Homo sapiens: one gene and its partner. The protein of the gene in region 2 interacts with the protein of the main gene of each other region in a pairwise test. Each region holds a gene or a part of one and is shown on either strand. Other genes may lie near its edges.

Evidence for each region. Proteins that work in one complex are often made in the same cells at the same time.
Region 1: the proteins of MEGF10 (region 2) and RANBP10 interact in a two-hybrid assay, tested with the Homo sapiens proteins (one study listed by BioGRID and IntAct).

Annotation. Positions count from the first base shown.
Region 1 is NC_000016.10:67,733,048-67,741,217, forward strand, and holds part of RANBP10 (ran-binding protein 10), read right to left. Parts: intron 4,989-8,170; coding exon 4,966-4,988; intron 1,996-4,965; coding exon 1,811-1,995; intron 1,753-1,810; exon of another isoform or gene 1,502-1,752; coding exon of another isoform or gene 1,194-1,501; intron 1-1,193. UniProt on the Homo sapiens protein: May act as an adapter protein to couple membrane receptors to intracellular signaling pathways.
Region 2 is NC_000005.10:127,433,455-127,441,624, reverse strand, and holds part of MEGF10 (multiple epidermal growth factor-like domains protein 10 isoform a precursor), read right to left. Parts: coding exon 8,116-8,170; intron 6,939-8,115; coding exon 6,804-6,938; intron 6,265-6,803; coding exon 6,136-6,264; intron 3,187-6,135; coding exon 3,058-3,186; intron 887-3,057; coding exon 758-886; intron 1-757. UniProt on the Homo sapiens protein: Membrane receptor involved in phagocytosis by macrophages and astrocytes of apoptotic cells. Receptor for C1q, an eat-me signal, that binds phosphatidylserine expressed on the surface of apoptotic cells. Cooperates with ABCA1 within the process of engulfment.

The sequences.
Region 1 (8,170 bases), on a different chromosome or scaffold from region 2:
CATCTCAAAAAAAAAAAAAAAAAAAAAAAATTATTGGCTGCGTGTGGTGGCTCATGCCTGTAATCTCAACACTTTGGGAGGCCGAGGCAGGAAAATCACTTGAGCCCAGAAGTTTGAGACCAACCTGGGCAACATGGCGAAACCCTGTCCCCACAAAAAATACAAAAAATTAGCCAGGTGTGGTGGTGCATGCCTACAGTCCCAGCTACTCAGGAGACTGAGGTAGAAGAATTGCTTGAGCTCAGGAGGTCCATGCTGCAGTGAGCCATGACTGTGTCACTGCACTCCGCCTGGGCAATAGAGTAAACTCCTGACTCAGAAAAAAGTAAAGTAAGTATAATTATTATTATTACACCATATTATTATTATAAACACAAGGGTAAATATGAAAAAGTCTTTATCTACAAGAGGGTTACCTACACAAGTAAAAGAGAAGGAATTACCTGACCTTCCACTAGAGGAAGCCAGCCAAAAGGCTTGTGACAAATTTGTCTCTGTGATAACATAGCCATTATCAATATTCATTAAATGAAGTTATGTAAAACCACAGTACACAAATTATATGCAGGTCTTGGCAAATGCTACATATGAACACATACAAGCACATGGATACACACATGTAAACAAAAACACCTATGTGCTATGCTGGACATGGTAGCACATGCCTGTGATGCCAGCTACTCAGGAGGCTGAGGTGGGAGGATCACTTGAGCCCAGGAGTCCAACCTGGGCAACAAAGTGCGACCCCATCTCAGTATTTTTTTAAAAACCCCAAAACAAAAACACATCCATGTGCTGAGCCTAGGCCCTGAAAACTGAGAGTATCAGTTCCTCCCCTACACAGACTTGGCATCTTCACCCCTCTTCTTGGCAATCCCACCAAGCCTGCTCTGGGAGTGGCGCTGTCCTGGCCATCCAAGGAAGTCCTTGTCATCTGCTCTGGGGGGCTGTGAACAAGAGGCAGCAATGCTGTTTTTCCTGGGGAAGGTCTGGCCACCTAGCCCCTGCCTCAGCCCATCCTTGGGGCCTGCCTCAAGGGACAAAGGCTGCACAAAGAACTCAGTGTGTACCCCAACCCCACCCCAGGAATCCTAGCACCCTGGTGCCTTTGCAGGGCAATGACCACAGGCAGTGGAAGCCCAGCCCTTCCCCATGCCCATCTGCCCATCCTTGAGAGCCAAGCTAACACCCACCTCCTGGCAGAGTGGATACTGGTCACTGCCTCACTCAGGCTTGCAGATGGCAAGTGGAAGAGAAACCCAAAGCTGGCCTCCCTTGGGAGTTCAGCGACACTGGCTTCCAGGACAGTCTGGGAATTAATCAGCCAAGGAGCTAGCTCAGCTGGTCCTAGGGAGAACTCCCTTCCCTCCACCACCGCTATAGACGAATGAGACTCAGTTGGATGCTGGGCCCTGTGAGGTGGCCTCAGGCCAGAGTCACAGCACCATGGATACTCCCTATGGTAGAAAAAGGGTCCACAGAGGAAGAGACCACAGGGCATCCTCTGCAAAATCCTCTGCAAAATGACCTGGGGAAGGAAAACAGCCCTGCTGGTGATCTTATATACAGGAGCCTCCAATATGGCTGAGAGGCAAAGGTTTAATTAGGAGCAGCCCGGAGAACTCGGTGGGAGCTGTCCATCCGACGACAGAGAAGCAGGAGAGCTGCAGGCTGAATGGCCCTGGGAATGCTTCCCAGAAAGGATCCACCCGCTGGAATTTGTAAGAACAGCTTGTAGCCCTACAGGGGCCTAGAGTGAAGTGGGCTGGGGTGGGGTGGGAGTGGGTAAGGGCAGGAGCAGGGCACTCACTTCTGCAGCACTGCCTGCCACTCGCCAAGCCGGGCACTGATGGGGAAGCAGTGGACCGTGCCCTGGACCTTGGCACGCCACTCCCGCATGTAGTCCTCAATGTCAAACAGGAAGGGCTGCTGCCCAAAGTTGGCGTCCACAATCTCCCCAGGTGTCTGCAGGCCTACGGTGGGGTAGAGGTTGGCCTGAGGAGGAGAATGAAATGTCAGTCAGGCCCTGAGGGCAGTGGGGTTCTAAGGCCTCACCTCACCTCCATGGCTGCTGCTGGCCCATGCTTGGGCTGGGAGAGTTGCAGCAAGGCTGGAGGAGGCAGGGCGGAGCCACCTCTGTCCACCTCCCTAGCAGAGACATTATGCCCCAAAGCTTGAGGGGAGAAAGCAAAAGAAAAGCAAGCAAGGCACATCATGGAGAGTGTCCTGCCCTGTATCAGAGGCCATTGTGTCCTCAAGGCCCAAGAGCCCTTTCTGGAACTCAGCCAAAGCATACAGAAATGGGCTGGGCTCCACGACCCTTCAGACGTGCCCATGAAGGTCTGCTGCAATAGTGGGTCATGGCTCCTCTTGGAAAGATCCAGGGCCAAGGATCTCTCTGTCTCAAAAAAAATAAGACACATGAGGCTGGGCACAGTGGCTCATGCCTGTAATCCCAGCACTTTGGGAGGCCAATTTAGGAGGATCGCTTGAGCCCAGGTTTTCAAGACCAGTCTGGGCAACAAAGTGAGACCCTGTCTCTACAAAAAATAAAAAGATAAAAATTAGCCAGGTGTGGTGGTATGCACCTGTGGTCCCAGCTACTCGGGAGGCTGAGGTGGGAAGATGGCTTGAGTCCAGGAAATTGAGGCTGCAGTAAGCTGTGATTCTGCCACTGCAACCCAGCCTTGGTGACAAGAGTGAGTCCCTGTCTCAGAAAGAAAAAAAAAAAACAAACCAAAAGATAGATACATGGGGGGTAGGCAGAGATGGGATGACGCAGGAAAGGAGGGAGGAGGGGAACATGGCAAAAGGGAACCGGTGGTCTAGACCCCTGGTGCTGGCAAAGGGTGAAGAGAAGCTACCCTTCCTGTTAGAGGCTCGCTAAGAGGATCTTCTGGCCAGTAGGGTGTGAGGCTCCCTGCTTTCCACCTAGCCTCTACCATGACTGGCTTTTGTTCGGTCCCTCCCTCACTTGGTGGTTCCTGTGGCTCCCCACTGCAACTGTCCAGAGCCTCGCTAGCCTCCTCCCCACTGTCACTGCAGATGGTCTTCCCAGGGCCCTCAGTCCACCCTTCACCTCCGTGCTCAGGCCATGTTCCTTCCTGAGTATCATGCACTTTTTTTTTTTTGAGACGGAGTTTCGCTCTTGTTGCCCAGGCTGGAGTGCAATGGCGCGATTTCAGCTCACCGCAACTTCTACCTCCTGGGTTCAAGCAATTCTCTTGCCTCAGCCTCCTGAGTAGCTGGGATTACAGGCATGCGCCACCACGCCCGGCTAATTTTGTATTTTTAGCAGAGATGGGGTTTCTCCATGTTGGTCAGGCTGGTCTTGAACTCCCAACCTCAGGTGATCTGCCCACCTCAGCCTCCCAAAGTGCTAGGATCACAAGCGTGAGCCAGCGCGCCTGGCCAACCATGCATTTTTGTACCTGCACAAGGTATGGGACCTTTTCCTGTATGCTGGCTTCAGCCCACCATGGGCTCTGCACACAGAGGACCTCTCGCTTCCTTTCTTTCCCCTACCATCCTCCACCACAGGCAAGGCCCGCCTCCTCCAGCAAGCCTTCCTGACCGTCACTGCCTACCATGTCTTTCCCCCATACCTTCTTGCATGTGGCTGCATACTGGCCATGCTCATGCCTGGTCATTTCATGTCACGTCCCCATAACTAGACCCTTCCCTAGCCAGGGTCAGCATTCTCCACCTGATTCTGTTCTCTTTGCCTAGGACCACAGCCCCTCTCTGGGGCTTCCAGGTAAGAGGGAAGGATTCTGAGCCATGGACTGGAGGTTTTAACAGGACCCTGGGTGCTATGGTCTGGGCTTCAGAGGCCCATAAGATCACAAAGGCATTTCCTGGGGCATCACTGGGGTGTTTGGGATCCCAAAGCAGCCACCAGAGTCAGCAAACCTTCCTTCCTTCCAGAACCTAACCAGAACACACAGAGCCAGGCCAGGCTCCCAGCATCCTGGGTGGAGGCCCTGCATGTGATTAGGCCTGTGATGACTCATAATAGAGACTGGAGTACAGGTGCGGGATGGCTGGAGGTGAGGATATGCCCTGAACTAAGCAAGCAGAAAACTCCATCCTTTTCTGTTTTTTTTTTTTTTTGAACTAAGCAAGCAGAAAACTCCATCCTTTTCTTTTTTTTTTTTTTTTTTTTTTTTTTGAGACGGAGGCTCGCTCTGTCGCCCAGGCTGAAGTGCAGTGGTGCGATCTCAGCTCACTGCAAACTCTGCCTCCCGGGTTCAGGCCATTCTCCTGCCTCAGCCTCCCGAGGAGCTGGGACTACAGGCGCCTGCAACCAGGCCCGGCTAACTTTTTTTGTATTTTTAGTAGAGACAGGGTTTCACCCTGTTAGCCAGGACGATCTTGATCTCCTGACCTCGTGATTTGCCCACCTCGGCCTCCCAAAGTGCTGGGATTACAGGTGTGAGCCACCGCACCCGGCCAGAAAACTCCATCCTTTTCTAAGAAGAGAAGACCCCACAAAGCTCACCTCTCTGGCTTGGGGGTGCCCTAGATAGTAGCAGATGAGTTCCCCTAGGGCACTAACTTTCCTCAGGGATCTCTGATGGGTATGTACAAGGACTAGGTTCCCTCACAGTTCAGGAACAATTCCCTACACTCTGCACCCCAGCTGACACACAGCTGGTTTAGACCAGTTGAGCCATGGAGCTATCTTCATTCCACCACCCTACCCGCCCCAGCCCCACAGCTGCCTTTGGAAGTGCCACAAATTACTGTCACCTGCTAAGAGTCGTAGGAAGACCAGACCTTACTGCTGGAGAGAGAGGAAGGCCAGCAAGTGCCCCTCCTGGTACCCTCAAGCTGACAGCATGGCACACATCCCTGGTTGGGGAAAGAACCAGACTCCACACCCTGCACTTGCAGGTACCACCGTGCCCCATCCCAGTCAGCCCCCAGAAACCCAGGAGGGGAAGACTCAATAGTAGTACTCACCGGGAGGTCTGTGAAGGCTATACCTGTGGGGGGAAAGGAACAGTCATCAGGGCCAGCCCCTGGGGCTACTCTGCCTCTGCACCCCATGGTGGAGCCAGTGCTAGGGCCGGGTAGTTGTTTTTTTTGGTTTGTTGTTGTTGTTTTGAGACAGAGTCTCCCTCCGTAGCCCAGGCTGGAGTGCAGTGGTACGATCTTGGCTCACTGCAACCTCTGCCTCCTGGTTCAAGCAATTCTCTGGCCTCAGCCTCCCCAGTAGCTGAGATTACAGGTGCCCACCACCACGCCTGGCTAATTTTTGTATTTTTAGTAGAGACAGGGTTTCACCATGTTGGCCAGGCTGGTCTTGAACCCCTGACCTCAAGTGATCTGCCCGCCTCAGCCTCCCAAAGTGCTAGGATTACAGGCATGAGCTACTGTGTCCAGCTGGGAAGGTTTTTTTGTTTTTGTTTTTGTTTTTTGAGATGCAGTCTCACTCTGTCGCCCAGGCTGGAGTGCAGTGGTGCGATCTCGGCTCACTGCAAGCTCTGCCTCCCCGGTTCACGCCATTCTCCTACCTCAGCCTCCCGAGTAGCTGGGAATACAGGCGCCCACCACCACGCCAGGCCAATTTTTTCTATTTTTAGTAGAGACGGGGTTTCACCATGTTAGCCAGGATGGTCTCGATCTCCTGACCTTGTGGTCTGCCCACCTCAGCTTCCCAAAGTGCTGGGATTACAGGCGTGAGCCACTGAGCCCGGCCCCGGGCTAGGTAGTTTTAATTAGACCATGGCCTTCTCTTCACTGGCGGCCTGGCCAGAAGTGAAATCAGATGCTTAGGCAGGTGCATAGCTCCTCCACCCGCAAAGAAAGCCTGCTAAGGGGAACTAAATCCAAAAGATCTATCCCCTGCGGCCCTTCAGACCTGATACTTCTCTTGATTTAACACATATTTATGGAAACTTATTGTGCATGCCAGATCCTTTTTTGGAGAAGGGCCTCACTCTGTCGCCCAGGCTGGAGTGCAGTAGCACAATCTTGGCTCACTTCAACCTCTGCTTCCCGAGTTCAAGCAATTCTCCTGCCTCAGCCTCCCGAGTAGCTGGGACTACAGGCACATACCACCATGCCCGGCTAATATATATTTTTGTATTTTTGGTAGAGACAGGGTTTCACCATGTTGGCCAGGCTGGTCTTGAACTCCTGACCTCAAGTGATCTGCCCACCTCGGCCTCCCAAAGTGCTGGGATTACAGGTGTGAGCTACCGCACCTCGCCCCTTTTCCATCCATTACTTCATCTGATCCTCACACCAACTCTGGGAAGCAGGCTTATTGCATTTTACAAAGGAGAAAAATAAGCCTCAGAGGTTCGACAATTTGCCAGTAGTCATAAAGCTAGCAAAGGTGGTGGGGCTGGATTTGTTCCTAGTCCAATGCTTCAATGTCATCCCCAAGCTGACAGAGAAGTGGAAACAGGGAGGGTGGCAGCTGCCTATCTCCAGTCCATACGCAGTCAGAGTCCTCAGAGGTTCCAAGCTGGCAAAGTTCAGGTTAACAATGGCCTGTGTGGAAGGATCTCTTGAGAACAGAAGTTCAAGACCAGCATGGGCAACATAGCGAGGCTCCGTCTCTACAAAATATATAAAATTAGCTGTGGTCCCAGCGACTTGGGAGGCTGAGGCAGGAGGACCACTTGAGCCCTGCAGGTTGAGGCTGCAGTGAGCTAGTATGATTGTGCCACTGGGTTCCAGCTTGGGTGCCAGAGCAAGACCCTGTCCCAAAAAAACAAAAACAAAAAACAGCCTGTCAAAAACCCTCCTGCCAAGAGAAGTGGCTGCATTTCTAGGGACCTCAGCTCTGAATTGGAAGTGAGGGTAGAGGGGAGTGGGACCACAACTATATAAGCAGGCTACCAGAGCACCCATGTTCTTCAAACTGAGAAATGACAAATGACTCAGGACCAGTGGAGGCTCTCCAAGGACTCAAAGCCCTCTCATTTTTTAGATAAAGTCTTTTTTTTTTTTGAGACGGAGTCTAGTTCTGTCGCCCAGGCTGGAGTGCAGTGGCGTGATCTCGGCTCACTGCAAGCTCCGCCTCCCAGGTTCACACTTTTTTTTTTTTTTTTTTCCCTGAGACGGAGTCTTGCTCTGTCCCCTAGGCTGGAATGCAGTGGTGTGATCTCAGCTCACTGCAAGCTCCGCCTCCCGGGTTCACGCCATTCTCCCGCCTCAGCCTCCCAAGTAGCTGGGACTACAAGTGCCCGCCATCATGCCCAGCTAATTTTTTTTTGTATTTTTAGTGGAGACGGGGTTTCACCGTGTTAGCCAGATGGTCTCGATCTCCTGACCTCATGATCTGCCTGTCTCAGCCTCCCAAAGTGCTGGGATTACAGTCGTGAGCCATCATGCCCGGCAGATAAAGTCTTATATCTCCCAGAAGCTCCTGAGCTTTTGGCCTTTGAGGTTTTCAAACTGCTGATTCCTTAGAGATCTCCAGTCTGCTATCCAACCCCTGCCCAGAAAAGAAACTGAAGCCCTGCAAAATAGAACAGGGTCTATTCTATTTTGGGTCTGACAACAGGTCTCCCAGAAACCTGGCCGGAATCATGCCAGCCAGCACATACCACATGCTTCCTCTATGCTGGGCACTGGACTGAGTGTCTTATAAGGCACTATTCAATCCTCAGAACAACCTTGGAAGATGTATACTACCTCTGACACTAGTTCACATATGAAAAAACCAAGATGCAGAGAGATGGTTTATATTCTTTGTTCGGCTATTTTGTTTGCTTCTCACTGAGGGACGCTCATAAGCCGCATGGTCTGCCTGTCTGAAGCCACTTTTGGGCCCCACATGCACAGTCGGCATGACTCTGGCATGCTGGCAGGACTGAATCTGGAAATCTCTCTGTACCCAGGAGAAGACCCCAATGTCCACCCTCCAGGCCTGCCCCGGAGCTGCCCTCATGGATCTCAGCATGGCCAGGATATTGCTTACTCCAGGGCTCATGGAGGAGTCCCCAAGAAGCCTGGAAAAAGGGAGTCCAAGCTCCGTAAATTATATATAGTGTGACCTTTGGCAAGTAACCCAACCTCTCTGAGCTCATCTGAAAAAAAGAGATAATATCGATATCTCGACTTCAAGGAAAAAGGGAGAAAATGAGACATTCTGTGAAAGCTACTTCATGAACCCTAAGGTCTAGGTATAAGTCAGCTGTGGTAATGCCAC
Region 2 (8,170 bases):
AGCCCTTATTTATTTATCGTGAATACTGAAAGAAAGTCATAGAGGAAAGGAATAATAAACTAATTTGCAATATTCAATTTTATTAAGACTAATGTTTTTATAACTCTGTGAGGGGATGCATAGCTAGTGGGGTGGAAATAAAAAAATAAGGATGAGTAATTCCAACGGCATATTCTCCCCCAGTGGGACTTAAACAAAATTTTAAGGCAGTATGTTGTCTGGAAGGTTGTTAAGACTAAGATGAGAAGTTGTTAATGGAAGCAGTATAAAAGTACGATCTAGAGAAGGTTGTTGAAAGGGTGGCAATGTTTGCATGGATGTGTTCCCTCACCAGCAACAGGGATTGGCCCTGGGCCACCAGCCCTCCTCCCCACCGAATGTACTGTCCTCCAATGTGAGACCCGGGTTCTGCCTCTGCCATGAAGAAAGCTCGACTGGATCTTTTAAGGCTCTGAGCAGCCACATTCCAAAAATAAGAAGGAGAGGAAGGGAGAGCCCAAAAGAACAGAATGGAAAACTTGAATTCTGTCTTCATTCTTGTAGTCACACCTCCTCCGCCCAGAGCAGTGAGTAACCAGCGATGATCCCAGGGAGGCCTGACCTCTGGGAGGGGAAGTCAGTCATGCTGAGAAGTAACCAGCCATCAGCTCAAACAACCTCGGAGTGGTGAATTCTGCCTTAATATTTCCTGGCATCTAGGAAATGTGATTCTAGAGGAAAAAAATACCACCCAGTGATGCCACACTCTCATACTTACTCTGCTCACAGTGCCGTCCCATGAATCCAGTGCGGCAAGTACACTGCCCAGAAATGTGGTCGCAGTCAGCTCCGTTTTGACATTGGCATATCAGTGCACAATCTTTTCCATAAAACCCTAGAGGACATCCTGTGGGAGGAGGGAGGACAGTAGGAGTCAAGAGGCTGCTGAAGAGAAACACTTGGAGGCTCGTGCCTCCAACATATTTGTGTTTAAACTTGAATGACACTGAGCCATCAGAGAATACAGTGAATAGTACATATCTGAGCTTGCCACAAGAGCTTCTTTGAAGTCCCAAGACAGGGCTCTTGCAAGGAGGTTGTAATTCATAAGCAGGAGGCAGAAGAGTTCCATTCCTGTCAGTGTAACCATCACTGGTACCCCTGGAGGCAAGACTAGTGCCTTCTAACAAAATATCCCTTCAATCCTGGAAGAATAGGACATTTCCTTTCATTCTTTCACATTTCTACTAGAATCCTGGACTCAAATTCCAATGGACTGAGACGGGTACTTTATATTAAAATTACCTGTATGCTTTTACTTGTAGTACAGAACATCTCTATTGTTGCTACTAGCCTTGTCCACTGTATCTGTTATTATCTTAGATAATATCAACTTCCCTGAAGAGGTGTACTAGAATGCTTACCTTAAAAAACAATTGTACTTCACAGGTGCTTTGTAAAAAGCAATAACCCTTCACACTGCTGCATGATTTTCAATGCTTAGACCGGCGAGTCTCTTGAGCTAAAGACACCCACAAATTCTGTTGGCTTACATGGGCTGGCAGCTGCCCTGCAAGAGTGTCTTGGGGATCTCTGGCGTGATGAAAGATTCAATGCAGGCTGATTCAATGATTGTTTCCAAATATTACATATGCTTTTCATTTTCTCATTTTCTTATGGAACTTTCAAGAAGCAGAGGCAGTGCCCAGATGCCAGTATGCACCGATGACTCCCTGCTGTCATGCATTTATTTAGCACCTACTCTGTGCCAGATTCTTTTCATGCGTTCTCTTGTTTAATCTTTACAGCAGGCCAGAAATGCAGGGATGGATATTCCCGTCTTGTAGACAGGAACTAAGCCCCAAGTACCCTAAGTCACACAGCTGGCAACTGGCAGGACGGCAGGGCCATGATTCAAACACAGGGAGGTCTGGCTCTGGACCCCATGTTGTTCCCACTATATCATGTTACTTGCACTTGAAAAAGGGTTCTCTCTTTGAAGCACGTTCTAATTTTAGAATTATAAATAATATCTTACAAGTACCTTTCTCTAAGAAGTTAAACAATATTTATAGATATACGAACTCTGAAGAATATGCTTGGGCCAGCTACCTTCCTTGCCAATTATCCTTTTCAACTCTTGGTTCAAGGTCTACATTATCTTCTAGAAAGTTTCTAAGACTTTTTCAGCCTATTCTTTAATTATGTACTCTAATTAGTATTAAATAAGAATTGCTCAATTTCAGACCCATCTGTCCTCCTCAGCTTCTTGCTATTATTTTAAAATATACGCTATTATTAGTACTTAACCATAACACATGCCTTCCTTTCTTGTCTCCTTTATTCAACCGAAGGTAAGAGGTCAGAGAATGATCTTCCTTCCCCAATGATGCTCAGCTTTGGAGTAAGTACTTTGCACACTATATCCTATCATGCTAAAAGCCTAATGGAAGAAAAAATGGTTAGGATGCTATGAATTACAAAATGGGGAAAAGAACTAGGGCAGTGGCTCTCAAAGCATGGTCCCAGCCTGGCATTACTACCAGTTGATAAAAATGGCAATTCTCAGGTGCCAGCCCAGACTCGCTGCTTCCGGCTTTCTGGGGATGGAACTAGCTTCTGTGTTTGTTGTGTCCTCCAGGTGATTCTGAAGCTTGCTACCATTCGAAAAACACGGAACTCCACCTTTTCCAAGAGCGCACATTAAATCAGGCAGTGAGGCTTGTTGTCTTCTCTACCTTTCTAATCTCTATACTTATCCTAACTTTTGTGCTGTTAAAGGATTGAGAATTTGATCCATATAAATATGATTTGGTTAAAGGAGAGAAGAGAAATAAACTGCATACCATCACACAGCATTGCTCTACCTCAGTGGAGATAGAACCTAGAGACAGAATACTTGGAATGAAGTAGCTCTTAATCACTTAGAGAAATTTATATGTCTACAGGTCATTAGGAGAGGGAAGTACTCCAACCTCAGGGACCTTTGTTGAGCTCCAGTCACGCATGCGGAGGGTAAGGCTGTTTCCTCCTTGGACAAGGCTCCCCTTGGTGAGCCTCAGAAGGCTTGTCACTTACTCTGAGTGCAGTAGAGCCCTGTCCAGCCAGGAGTGCATTTACATTCCCCATCGTAGGCGCTGCAGAAAGCTCCATTATGGCAGTTGCACGTGTGGATGCAGTTTGGGCCCCAGTGGGCAGGTGGACATGCTGAAATTACAGGTATGGAGAAGTCCATCAGAGTTCTGAGGCCAATACTAAGTAGGGAGAATTCCATCCACCTCTACACATCTCCCTGCATGTGAGAGGTTAGCAGTGTACATCAGGACTAAGAAAGCACACTGCTCTGAATTCTGCACTAAATCCCAGATGGCCATGGCAACTTCAACAACGACTGTCATTATTGACATATGTATTCATTTACAACTGCAGAGTGAGGTGGCTGGGGCAAAAATCACCTCAAGTTTACAGATTCAGTTATTAAACAAACACATATTCAACACCTATTATGTACCCAACACTGTTCCAGGCCCAAGGGAGATAGCAGAGTATAAGACAAAGTCCAAACCATCCTCTGGAAGCTTCTATTTTGGTAGGGGAGGCAGGCAAACCAACCAACCAACCAACAAAATGAAAAATCAATGGTGGTAGGTATTATGAAAAAACATAAGGAGGATAAGGAAGACAATAATTTTGGGAGCTACTCCTCTGAGGAAGGCCTCTGTGAGGAGAGGACATTTGAGCAGAGATAAGGTGTGGAAAATGACTTGACTCAAGAGAGGTTAAAGGACCCAAGGCCATGTAGCTCATGTTCACAATTTCTAAATCCTGTACCCTTCAGTCTACTCTAGAGTTGCCACTTCAGGCTCCTTTTAAATATTGAGGTTCCCAGCGGTATGTAAAAATTGGTTTCCTTGTAAAAACTCTTAACTGGAAGATCCAGAAAATAATACAATTAAATCATTAGGGGTCACTGCCGATTGAAGAGACATCAGAAAGTCAGATAAAGTATCTGTGAAATAATAGCATAAGATCAGGGGGTAAAATAATTTCATTGACAAAAAATACTTTTTATTCATATTAATACTTTAGGAACATAATTGCATAAAAGGAGGACCACCTGTAATTTCTATACGGCTACCCCATAGGGAATGTGGACCTATAAAGACAATCAATAATACATATGAAGTAACTTTTTAAATGAAAAAAATTCTTCCATAATTGTGTGCACCATGTCCAAGAGCAAGGGGAAAATACTAGCTGACACTTGAGGTCTCGAGTGAGCATTGGAACAAATTTTCTAAATACAACACCTTAATTTTACAGATGAAGAAACTGAGCACACAAAAGGTTAATAGTGACTCGTACAAGGTCACATAGATTAATAATAATATTTGTTATTTGTTAGACAAATACAGCTTTCCCAAAGCCACAGTGAGACTCAGTGAAAACTGTTGAAGCGTCTAGCCCATTTGATGCTCAGTGAAGCACTCTTTACCTAAAACAACCTATTCCTTAGATGATATTTAACCAGCTTCTGTAAACCCATTTATGTTCACAATATATTTTTCTGAGGTAACCCACTGCCATTAGGTTTTTCTCCCTATATTTGTTATGATCAGAGAATGGGAATAAGCATCACTCAACTTTATATTCCCAAAAGGTAAACGTAGAGATAGTGCTTTAAAAAATCATTTTCCCAAGGACACCTGCCCCTTTAAATGTACCCCTTTAAGTTTTCAAAGTCTGTGTTTTCACTGTGAAGGACTTTGCTCTCTTTAGACAGGCTCACAATCAGCTAAGAAGAAATATGAAGATGGTTCCACAGAGTCCATAAGGGAATCAATGAAATCAATGATCCCCAGGAGAAGCAAAGGCTTTTGCCAAATAAGTCAGCTTCCTGTGGAGTGATTATTGGGACAGGCAACACTATAGTCTCCATTCATAGTTGTGTTTCTATTTTTATTCCTTTCAGCACATTCCTCCTCCAAATGAGGAAGGGACAAATTTCCAAAATAAAGACTACTTTTTAAAGGAGCAATATAAATCAATCATTTTGTGACAATGATATTGGACCTTTTACTCTTCCCAAACCCATACGCCCAACCATCAGTCAGAGCCCTTGCAACACATGTAGATTTAAACAGACTGATTTCTTCTGAAGTGATGCCCCCAGAATGGAGTGAAATCATATCGCATAACACTTCTTTCACCAAAGAGCTACACTTCTGAGATTTATTAGCTCTCTTCCCTTATTCCTAAAAAATGGGGTACAGCCTGGACTACTTATGGAAAAAATTAACATTCAGAAAAAAATCTTCCAGCAAAAAATATATTGCTCATCAATTAGTATTTGCAGGTTGCTTGTAACTGTGAAGTTTGAATTAAATTATCAATAAAGCACCATGTAAAATGACTGCACACAGTCATTCTTTGATTTCTCTTATGTGCATGATGGGGGAATTCAATATAAACTGAGAGTGTTTCATAAAATTTAAAATGAATGAAACCAGATTACTCCATACATATGCTATTTTTTGGTCAAAAGTTGAATACTTTTAGACATTGCACTGACCCTTTCAAAACATTCATGAATGACTTATAGTCGATGTCATTTTTTTCATGACATGGGTGCTCTAAGAGTCATCTATATAGTCCCTTATAGGGTCACACAATTCCTGTCTGAAATCCAGTGGTGTGGAAGGCACTTGGGTGATGCCAAGGTGAAGCTAAGCATATTAGGTGGGCAGTTCGCTCAGGTTCCCAATAGGTTTCTAAGGCTCACATCATTTAATTCCATTTTTTCTTTCTCTGTAATTAACTCTCCAGATAAACACAAAATGAAGAGATAGATTTCTCAATACAGCTGTTTTTGCTTTATTTCAATGGACGATGAATCACTGAAAAGGGGATAAGGAAAATGTTACATATTTAGGTTCTTTCCAAGACATTATTTGGATTTAAACATAGGACCATTGCATAGAGGTCGTAATGGGAAAAAAAAAAAGAATTTTAAAAAAAGAATTTAAAGTAGAATGTGTCTTTTAATTAGTCATATATTCTTTCTTGATTATATAAAAACACTCATACTTCAATCCTAAAGAATCTGAAAACAAACAAATAAGAACAGTTTATTAATTGTTCTCAAACAAGACTTACGTTGAGAGCAGTCACTGCCAATCCAACCGGGGTAACACTGACAAGATCTGTCAATGGGGTTACAGGTTCCGTTGTTGGTGCAGGTACAAATTCCTGCACAGTTTTTCCCAAATCTGCCACTGGGACACACTGTGAATAAGCTATAGGTCAGTAACTCACAATCAAAACCCCTCTCGCAGAACCCTAGAATCTTAGCACAGGAAATAACTTTAAAGGTCACAGGCCCAGCTGCTCATTGGTAGCTATCTCTGCTCAACAGCATCCTTCATCTTGAATGGGCTCATTTTTACAAATCCATGAAGCCAAAGATTTGCATTAAGGCATCACAAACCAGGGGACATCATTGCACTTCTAGAAATATGACTTCACGACTTCTTGCTCTGGGAGTCTAAAATTCTTCCGCATATTGATTTTTTATGGGAGGACATGTCCAGCTAAAACTGAAGAGTAGCACATCTCAGGAAATAAAAAGGTTTTGCTGGAGTGGCAAGCCAGCTTTTCCAAAGCTCAAAGTCCTATCTGAGAAGCTGCAGACACAGCACAGCAGAAGACATTCCCAGCAGACAGCTGAAAACATGGCCTTCAGGAAGGCCAAGGGGAGGCCTGAGGACAGACTCTCCGGGGCGTGCTCATCACCACCCAGCTGTCCGGGATGCTTCGTGCCTTACCTTCATTGCAGAGGGCGCCTGTGAAGCCAGGCAAGCAGTCACACAGGCCGGTGATGTGGTGGCAGGGCCCGCTGCTGTGAACGCACTGTGGGCATGTCTGGCTGCAGCGATGCCCATAAAAACCAGGGGAGCAGACTGAAAACAGAAGGGAAATCAGCAGTTATCCTTCTGAGATGCGTTTGTCTCGCATTCCAGATCGGGATCTAGTTAAAGTTTTAGAGGTTAAAAAGCAAAACCTTAAAAAAAAGTAAAAAAGATACGGAGAATTTTCCAAGTAGAAAACAAGAACAACAAAGGAACAAAGGAACCCTTTAATGAGGAAAAGAAGCCACTAAACTCTGAGTTTCTTGAGAGCAAGCAAATGTCTTAGTCTTCTTTATTTTCCCATTTAAGGCCCCAGTTAGCTCAAGTCTTGGCATAAAGCAGGGCTCCAGGAATTTTCATTGAATAAATAAAGAGATAAAAAAATTGAAATACTAATAAGTCTCAAATAAGTACTCTCAAACCATTTGTTGATTCTTTATTCTTTAAGAGTCGTTTCTGGCAATAAAAATCGATCAACAGTCAAAATTTGAAGATTTTTCCTCCTCAAAATGGTCCAGGTTAATGACTGTAATCGAAAAGTGATTAACCAAAATGCTATATACTTAAGTTCTTGCCAAGATACTATTCAGATTTAAATATATGATAACTGCATAGAATTCTTATGGGGGGAAAGGCAATTTAAAAAATTAGAATAGTATAACTTATAATTAGTTACATATTCTTTTTTGATTGCATTTACTAAAAGATTACTTAATCTTCTAACTCAGAAGTCTTAAGGACCAATGTCAACAGTCTCCTTTTTCAACTTTGCAATTCCATTTTCCCCATAGCACTGATTTTAAGACTACTAGCAGGATGAATGATTTGCCTCAAGGTTTGGCTGATGTTGACGTCTGGTAATTGAGGTAAGGCCAATGCCAAACTGCTGAATAACATATTTACAGGTCAGTGAATTTCTAGAACACCATTCCAAAGCTTTCAGGAAGGGTGAAGAAATATATCCTGATGGTTGTGCCAATGAGGCAATGAAGTAATTATTGAGAAGAAATGGTTAAATCCCCATCTGTTAGGTTAGTTCTGAAGGCTGGAAAGAATGAAGCTCTTAGGGAACACAGTTCTGCAAAGGACAAGTGAACCATTACACTCTCTTTTGCCTTCAACTGCAACAGGACATCACTATAAACTGAGAGGTGGGACAGAGATCATTATTCGATACATGGTGCCCAGGGAAGGGAAGGTGGAAATTACTGCCTAATGAGACACTTACTCCTCTGACAAGTGGTGCCTCGGAAGCCTGGTGCACACTCGCAGATGCCATCATC